Linked DNA regions of Homo sapiens: region 1 is linked to region 2. A link means that fine-mapping ties the variant in region 2 to the expression of a gene that starts in the linked region. Tissue or cell type: lung. Region 2 holds a variant in brackets; the other region holds the start of a gene. All regions are shown on one strand. Distances are between the middles of the regions.

What was found. PIP is the estimated chance that this variant, and not a neighbour inherited with it, causes the effect.
Region 1: PWWP3A starts here. The variant in region 2 is fine-mapped to the expression of PWWP3A in lung (TOPMed, PIP 0.91).

Annotation. Positions count from the first base shown.
Region 1 is chr19:1,352,943-1,357,132 of GRCh38, reverse strand. It overlaps PWWP3A (PWWP domain containing 3A, DNA repair factor), which reads right to left and starts at 2,174. Exons shown (of 14, transcript NM_001369789.1): 1 at 1,998-2,174; 2 at 684-809; 3 at 39-124. The coding sequence starts at 740. RefSeq lists silencers at 1,966-2,035, 2,096-2,385, 2,270-2,430, 2,416-2,515 and an enhancer at 1,488-2,373.
Region 2 is chr19:1,446,348-1,450,347 of GRCh38, reverse strand. APC2 (APC regulator of Wnt signaling pathway 2) reads right to left here and starts at 227. Exons shown (of 15, transcript NM_005883.3): 1 at 10-227. RefSeq lists silencers at 181-380, 3,124-3,418. The variant T/A (reference allele first, on the strand shown) is at 1,551.

The DNA.
Region 1 (4,190 bases), 93 kb after region 2:
ACGGGAAAAAACAGTATTAAAACAACACAACACTTAACTTTTCCTCTAGAGAGAGGATTTGCACAGCTAGAAAATATTCCTTTCTTCTCTTATTTTTTGTTGAAGTCGCGGTTCGGGCCAAAACCTACATTTAAAACAAAAGAAAATCCTTGTTATTACAACAGCTGACAGTGAGAAACAGTGGCAAACTTTAGCACAAATGCAGCAGGTAATCCTGAAGGCCTATAACCATGGGATTTCAGATATTTGGTCCAATCCCCATTGTTTCACAGATGGGGAAACTGAGGCATGAGAGGCCAGTGGCAGACAAAGACAAGGACCTGGGCTTTTGCATTGCAGCTGAGCACTGTCTACTGAATTGCTGGAAAGCATTCCCTGAACACGACCATAATTTACTATCACAGGGCTGCTTGCCAGATCTTTCCTTGAGTTACAGCCTTACATGCCTTTTTACAGCTGATTCTTTTTTTTTTTTTAGTGTGAAAAAAAAAAGACATTTCTGGAAGTGTAACCTTGGAAGCACTAGACCAAAACCCCATTAAATGGGGAACGAGAATCAGTGCCAACCGTGTTCTGGCTCAATTATTTCACTGAAGCAAATCCTAGGTATCTCCTGATCAAGATTTTACTTGTCACCCGAAAGTCATTTCTAAGTCCTGAAGTTACAGAATAATGGCTGTCACCTTCGCAGGCCATAATCGCTTTTCCCATCGGCAGAGGACATACTTGGCATCCGCCATCATTTACACTCATGTGGCAAGTGGCAATGATTTGGCACAACGTACTCCCAGGTCTCACGCCAATGTGTCCTGGAACGAAATTTGCACGGTGGTTTATACAACTGTTTGCTGGCGATGTTAACGCAGACACAGCCCTCAGGGGCAAAGGTTAGCTCGACTTAGCCTCAAGTAGATGGTTTAATTCCACAATCTTGCATTGAGATGCTCAATGCCAAAAAGCAGACTGACAAACAGAAACGACGGGGCTCGGTATCCAGGGAGGCGCCTGCATTTTTTCATAAATAAAATACAGCACAGTCCCTCCCAAAGGTTCTATCTAGATCAGTTTTAAAAGGCTCCTGAATAAATCATCTCCGTGCGGAAGACCTGCCTCCGACCTCGGCAGGAGAGGCATTTTACACAATCAAAGCTCACAACCCTCCCCAATTTGGGGAGTTAACAGTTGACCACAGCACACACACAAAAATAAGAGCGGAAAAACGACTGCTCTTTTGGCTGCCATGTCCCTGAAAGAACGGGGACAGCTGCAGACCGTTCACAGCATCAATGGGAAGGACTGGCTTGGCTGTTGACAGAAATGAAAAGGAGGTTTGGGGGTGGGGGTGGAATTTAGCAACAACGGAGGGGGGCGTCCCCGCAGCAGGGAAGAGGAGGTTCCCAGCAGAGGTAGGGGTGGCGTTTCCAGCAAGAGAGGGGATCACAGCAGCAGCAGAAGTAGGGGTCCAGGCAGCAGGGACAAGATTTCATGGCGGAGGAAGGGTTGCGGCTTGCAGGAACGGGGGATTCAGGCAACAGAGAAGGGGGTCACAGCAGAAGCGGGGGGGCTCAGGGAGCAAGAACGAGGGCTCACGGAGGAGGTGGAGCGGAGGGTCCAGGTGGCAGGGATGGGGGATTTCACGGTTGGGGGTGGGGAATCCAGGGAAGCAGATGGGGGTCCAGGCAAGAGATGGGGTTCACGGCAGACGTGAGGGGGATCCAGGGAAGGAGATAGGGGTCCAGGCAGCAAGGATGGGGGAGCGGGTCCAAGCAAGAGATGGGGTCCGGGCGGCAGGGACGGGAAAAGGAGTCCAGGCAAAGTGAGGGGCCCACGGCGCCAGGGGCGGAAAAGGGGGTCCGGGCAGAGTGGGGGACCCACGGCGGTAGGGACCGGGCGCTCCCGGAGGAGTCTCTAGGCCGGGGCCCCCCCTCCCCCCAGGCCCGGCCTCCTCGCCTCAGCCCCGCCCGGCGGAACCGAGGGGACGCATCCCGCGGGCTCACCGGGCCCCCGGCTTTCCCCAGCGCGGCGCCCCAAGCCCGGGCAAGGAGGCCGCAGCGGCCGCAACAGCGGAGGACCCGCCCGCCAACCGCTGCCGTCCGCGCCGCCCGCGCTCACCGCCTCCGCCACCGCCGCCGCCGCCGCCGCCGCCGCTCCCCGCGGGGCCGGGGGCGGGGCTTGCCTCGCGGCGGCGCCAAGCTCCGCCCCCTTCCGCCCGCTGCCCAATGGGACGCGCGCGCTCCCAAGGAGCGCCGGCCTCGCCCTCTCCGGCGTCCACGGCCGCGCGCCGGCCCCGCCCCTTCCGCCGCGCGTCTACCCCTTTTTCCCGGGAGTGCTGCCTGAGGAGACCGGTTGGCGGGGCATGTGTGGCCGCTCCCGGGCGCCGCCCTCCCGCGCTCCCGGCCCTTTGTCCTGCAGTCAGACCCCGGACACCGCCCTCGCGGGTCTCGGTGGGAAAACAGGCTCCCCCGCCCGCGGCGATCCCTGAGAGAACCTTCCAGAACTTTCGAGAATCTTCCAGGTCCTACGGCACCTCCCAGCCCGGGAGCTGCGCGCCACGGACCCAATTCCAGCAGATCCCAACCGATCCCAAAGCCAGGCATCCCCGCAAAGGCGTCATAAGCTTCTGAACTAGAGCAGGACCCACCTTGGGAGGGTCCCAAGACCCCGGGGGGCACCGGAAACAGCCGCGGGTGGCGGGAGCCCCGGAGCGGTCGCTCCATCAGTGTCAGGCCTTTCCCTGAGCGGTTTTTGATTTTTTTTCAGACGGAGTCTCGCTCTGTCACCCAGGCTGGAGTGCAGTGGCGCGAGCTCAGCTCACTGCAGCCTCCTCCTGCTGGGATTACAGGTGCGCGCCACCCCACCCGGCTAATTTTTGTATTTTTAGTAGAGAATACTAAATGTTGATCAGGCTGCTCTCAAGCTCCTGACCTCAGGTGATCGGCCTGCCTCGGCCTCCCAAAGTATTGGGATTACAGGCCTGAGCCACCTCGCCAGCCCCCACAGTTCTTTAAAAGCAAAGGAGGCCGAATTGGCAGATCCTTTAAGCCCAAGGATTGGAGACCAGCCTGGGCAACATGGCGAGACCCCATCTCTATAAAAAAGATACAGGCTCACTCCTGTAATCCCAGCAGGAGGCCGAGGCGGGCAGATCACATGAGGTCAGGAGATCGAGACCAGCATTGCCAACATGGTGAAACCCCGTCTTTACTACAAATAGAAAAATTAGCCGGGCGTGGTGGCGATGCCTGTAATCCCAACTATTCAGGAGGCTGAGGCAGGAGAATCGCTTGAACCCGGGAGGCGGAACTTGCAGTAAGGGGAGATCGCGCCACTGCACTCCAGCCTGGGCAACAGAGTGGGACTTCGTCTCAAAAAAGGAAAAAATTAAAAGACTTACAGCAGCATTCGTCACGCACTGGCCCCGACTCTTCAAGGGGAAGGGGCGACAGCAAAGCCGGCTCTAACTTCTTTTTCCTTCTCACATTTGCGGGAATAGAAGGTTTGTGTCTTCGGTCGATCCCAGCAACCTCAGCGACTGATTTTTTTTCCTTTATCAAGTTGAGAATGTTCACCTTTCACTTGTTTTTTATTTTTATTTACATTTTTGAGTCGAAGTTTGGCTCTGTGGCCCAGGCTGGAGTGCAGCGGCCCAGTCATAGCTCACTGCAGCCTCAACCTCCCAGGCTCAAATGATCCTTCCACCTTAGCCTCCGGAGTAGCTGGGACCACAGTGCGCACCACCATGGCTGGCTAAGATTTTTATTTTTTGTAGAGAGAGGGTCTTGCTATGCTGGCCAGGCTGGTTTCGACCTTTTGGGCTCAAGTGATCCTCCCACCTCGGCTCCCCAAAGTGCTGGGATCACAGGTAGGATCCACCTTGCTCAGCCGTCTCAGTTTGTCTATAAAATGGGGGTGGTGGTCTGTGGGTGGTTGGCAAGAACTATGTCTCTGATATCCTCTCACGTTAAATCTGAGCTGGCGGTGGCTCAGGCCTGTAATCCCAGCACTTTGGGAGGTCAAGGCAGACATATCGCCTGAGGTCAGGAGTTCGAGACCAGCCTGGCCAATATAGAGAAACCCCCATCGCTACTAAAAATACAAAAATTGGCTGAGCGTGGTAGTGTGCACCTGTAATCCCAGCTATTTGGGAGGCTGAGGCAAGAAAATCTCTTGAACCCAGGAGGCGGAGGTTG
Region 2 (4,000 bases):
GACACACACCCGCTTACGTGCAGCTGGGCTGGCGGGGCGCCTGGGTCTGGGGCCTCCTCCCTCTGCGCGGCTCCGCGGGCCCCACCGGAAATCCCGGCCCGGGGTGGCCTCGGAGCGCGCGGGCTCCGGGGTCTCCGCGGCGCGGGCAGGGGCTCCGGGGCGGACAAAGCCCGGTCCGGGCCTGGGCAGGCGGCGCTGCCGCTCCTAGCGCTGGGCGAGACCACCGCGAGCGGGGGAGGATGCGGGATGAGGGATGCGGGTGAGACAGCCAATGAGGGCGCGGGAAGACGGGCTGGTGCCATGGCAACAGCCAATGGCGGCCCGGGGCGGGGACCGGCGTCGGCCGCGGGGCGTCGGGCCTCCGCGCGGGCTCAGGGGCCGTGAGTGCGGGGGGCGAAACCCCCCCGAGGGAAGGGGGTGCCCCGAGGACCAAGATTCCTGTGTCCCGCACTTTATTGCAGGGTGCAACGGCCTCTTAAAACCTCCTGCGTCTGGATTTGCAGAATTGGAGAGTAAAACATCAAATCCTGGATGTTACATCAGCATCTTGGCGGGGGAGGGGTTTCCAGGGCAGTGGCCGGGCTGGGGCCAGGCCTGCACCCACCCCACAGGTCCAGCCTGGCCTGGTGCAGGTGCGTCAGGGTGGGACAGGGTTCGGGTCCAGGCTGGAGCTCCCTGAGGGTCCTGCCTGGTGGGGAGGGGAGAGGGGAGGAGGGGCAGGGCCACTGGGGAGCACCTGGGACGCTGCATCTCCCCACATTTCTCCCTGTCTCCCCAACGGAGCGTCAGATCCTCCTGTAACTCCGTTGCTCTTCATGTCCCTCTCTCTTTCTGTCTCCCCCTCTGTTCTCTGTCTCTCAATCTCTGTCTCCATGTGTCTCTGCCCCTGGTGGGTGGCACACTTAATTCACCCTCACGGACCGAAGGCCAGAGGAGGGAAGGGCCAGGGGTCCCAGGAGTCGCCATCTCCAGGTGTCCTGGATGCTCCATGAGTCCCTGGAAGCCATTTGAAGGTTTAACACACAGAGCCCGTCCCTGCAGCTCGGAGCAGCCCTTCCTGCTCTGGACACAGACTCACAGCACAGAAAGGGAGGCGACTGGGGCCAGAAGAGTGATTTTTTTCCGTGCTGGGCAGGCAGGGCAAATCATTCGCCGCTCAACCCTCGGTTTCCTCCTCTGTAAAATGGAGAGGAGGCGGAAGATTCTGCAAGGGCTGGTGCAGGGAATGATAGGAGAGGGTGGGAAGGTCCGAGTATTCAAGGCCCCGTAGACAAAGGCAAGGGAGGACCCGTGCTGTTTCCTGTTGGGCCTTGAGCTGAAGACCCGAGGGCCTTGTCCCGGGCCAGCACTGCCAGGGGCTGAGAGCCCTTCGGCCTGGCTGTCTGGGAGCCCCCAGAGCTGGACGCAGCTGTCCCCACTGGTTGGGTCTGGGGAGGCAATGCAGTGGGCAGACACAGGGGATCTTTTCTTTTTTCTTTTTCTTTTTTTTCTTTTTTTTTTTTTTGAGACGGAGTCTTGCTCTGTAGCCCAGGCTGGAGTGCAGTGGCACG[T/A]TCTCGGCTCACTGCAAGCTCCGCCTCCCAGGTTCACGCCATTCTCCTGCCTCAGCCTCCCGAGTAGCTGGGACTACAGGCGCCCGCCACCACGCCCAGGCTAATTTTTTGTATTTTTTAGTAGAGACGGGATTTCACGTTAGCCAGGATGGTCTCGATCTCCTGACCTCGTGATCCACCCGCCTCGGCCTCCCAAAGTGCTGGGATTACAGGCGTGAACCACCACGCCCGGCCTTTTTTTTTTTTTTTTTTTAGATGGGGTCTTGCTCTGTCCCCCAGGCTGCAGTGCAGTGGCGCCATCTCGGCTCACCGCAACCTCCGCCTCCTGGGTTCAAGTGATTCTCCTGCCTCAGACTCCTCAGTAACTGGGATTACAGGCATGTACCACCTTGCCAGCTAATTTTTGTATTTTTAATAGAGAGGGGGTTTCACCGTGTTGGTCGGGCTGGTCTCAAACTCCTGACCTCATGATCCGCCCGCCTCGAAGGGGATTTTTTTCTGGAGGCTGGAAGGCTGCCCTGAGAAGTGAACAGCAGTGATCAGGAGGAGAGGCGTTCCAGGCTGAGGGAAGATCAATGCATGCTTGGGACACAGGGGGTGTCTGGTGGAGCCATGGGGTAGGGCGCGTGGTGGGGTTTGACAGGTCAAGCCGGGGCAGAGCTGGGCGAGGCTGAAATGGGGTTGGGGATGCAGAGCCCAGGGCCCTGGCTTCAGCTCAGCCTTGTTGTCCCTGTGTCCCCCTGGGCATGTCTCTCTCTGGCCTCGGTTTCCAGTCTTGTTTACTGAAGGGTGGGTTGGATGATCCCTGCCTCCCCCAAAGAGGAACTAAGTCCCACCTCCCTGTGTAGTTTCAGATGTCTCAGCTCCCCAGGCCCCCATCAGGCAGGGGTTTGGGGGATCCAAGGTCAGTCCTGTCCTTGTATACATGGGGAAACTGAGGCCTGGGCCAGGGAACGTGTTGCCTGAGTTCACCTGTGCCAGCCAGGCCTCCGGAGTGACACTGAACCTCCCTTCTTATCCCTCTGGGGGTGGCCAGGGCCTGGAGGGCTGAGGGTACATGGGGGCTGAGACCCCAAGACAAGATGCCCTTGGCCCCAAATCTACAAAACATTATGTCCCTGAACAATCCCCCCCCACACACTAAAATCCTCGACCCTGTAAATCCTTGAACCACAGCCACACTCAGACATCACCAGACATTTCAGAGCCTCAAGAACCCCCCACAGCCCCCTAGGACTTCAGGAGACTGAGAGAGGTCTCCCCCTTCTCCCACTGCAGAACGCAGGGCCTAGCCCAAGACCCCGACCTAGGCTCCTCCCTGGGGTCCTCCACGCCCCCTACTGCTGCTGGGCTAAAGGGGAAGTTCCATGAAATGCTCACTCCCCCACCCCTGTCCTGTGACACCTCCCCGCAAGTCCGCAGCCTGGCACACGGCTCACTCTTGGAGTGTCTTTGAGCCTTCTGAGTCTGACCTCGAGCTGTCCCCGCCCCCTTGATGCCTCCTCTGTGCCAGGGGCTAGAGGCAGAAACAGGGGCGGCCCCCATCGGGAGCTGGGTGGGGACAGAGAAGGCACCAGGTCATCGCGGGAGGATAGAGACGGCCCGCCGCCGGCTGGGTGGCCGGGCAGAGCCCTGACCGGTGAGGAGGCCACCGGAGGTGGGGGAGGGTGGGGTAGGCCGGTCCAGGCCGCGCCCTGAAGCCTGACCGCCGCTATGGGCCTCAGTTTCCCCGGCGGCGAGTCGGCAGACGTGCGCCTCCGTCAGCACCGCGGACAGCTCCCCGGCCCCCGCCCCGCGTTCTCTTGCGGGCGCCTTAGCTCCGCAACGAGGCTCCGGCCTCGAAGCGTGACCTTGGGCTCCCCGCTGCACCCCCCAGCCTCAGTTTCCCCTCCAATGAGGGATGTCACAGCCGCGAAATTCAGACGATTCCGGAGGCTGGAGAAGCGCTGGGGTCGGGAGCGGACGGATACGAACAGCAGCGGCGGCGAACGTCAAAGCAGGCCATACGCTCGCGCCCAGAAGGGGAAACTGAGGCCCAAAGAAGCGCAGGGCGTGGCCCAGGCCCCCACCCTGCGCAGGGCCGAGCCTCCGCAGGATGCCCCCGCAGCCGCCCCCGCCGCCCCAGCTGGCGCAGCCTCCGCGTCGGCGCAGTGAGGAGGGGTCCGAGGGTCTCCTGCAGAGGCCGAGGGCTGGGCTGGGCGAGCCCTGCGCTTGCGCAGACCCGGGGCTGGGGGTCGCAGCGGCGCACGAGAGGGGCTTCCATCCCCGCCAGCCTTCCGAGGCGGTTTCCCGGCAACGGTCTCTACGGCGACGGCACTAGACCCCCGACTCTGCAGCCTCCGCGCGCTCGCCCCATGCGCCCCCCGCCGCCGCGCCCGCTGTTCCCGCGGTGTGGACCCCGCCCCGTTCCTGCGCGGCCCGGAGCCCTCCCCAACGGCTCGACCCACGCG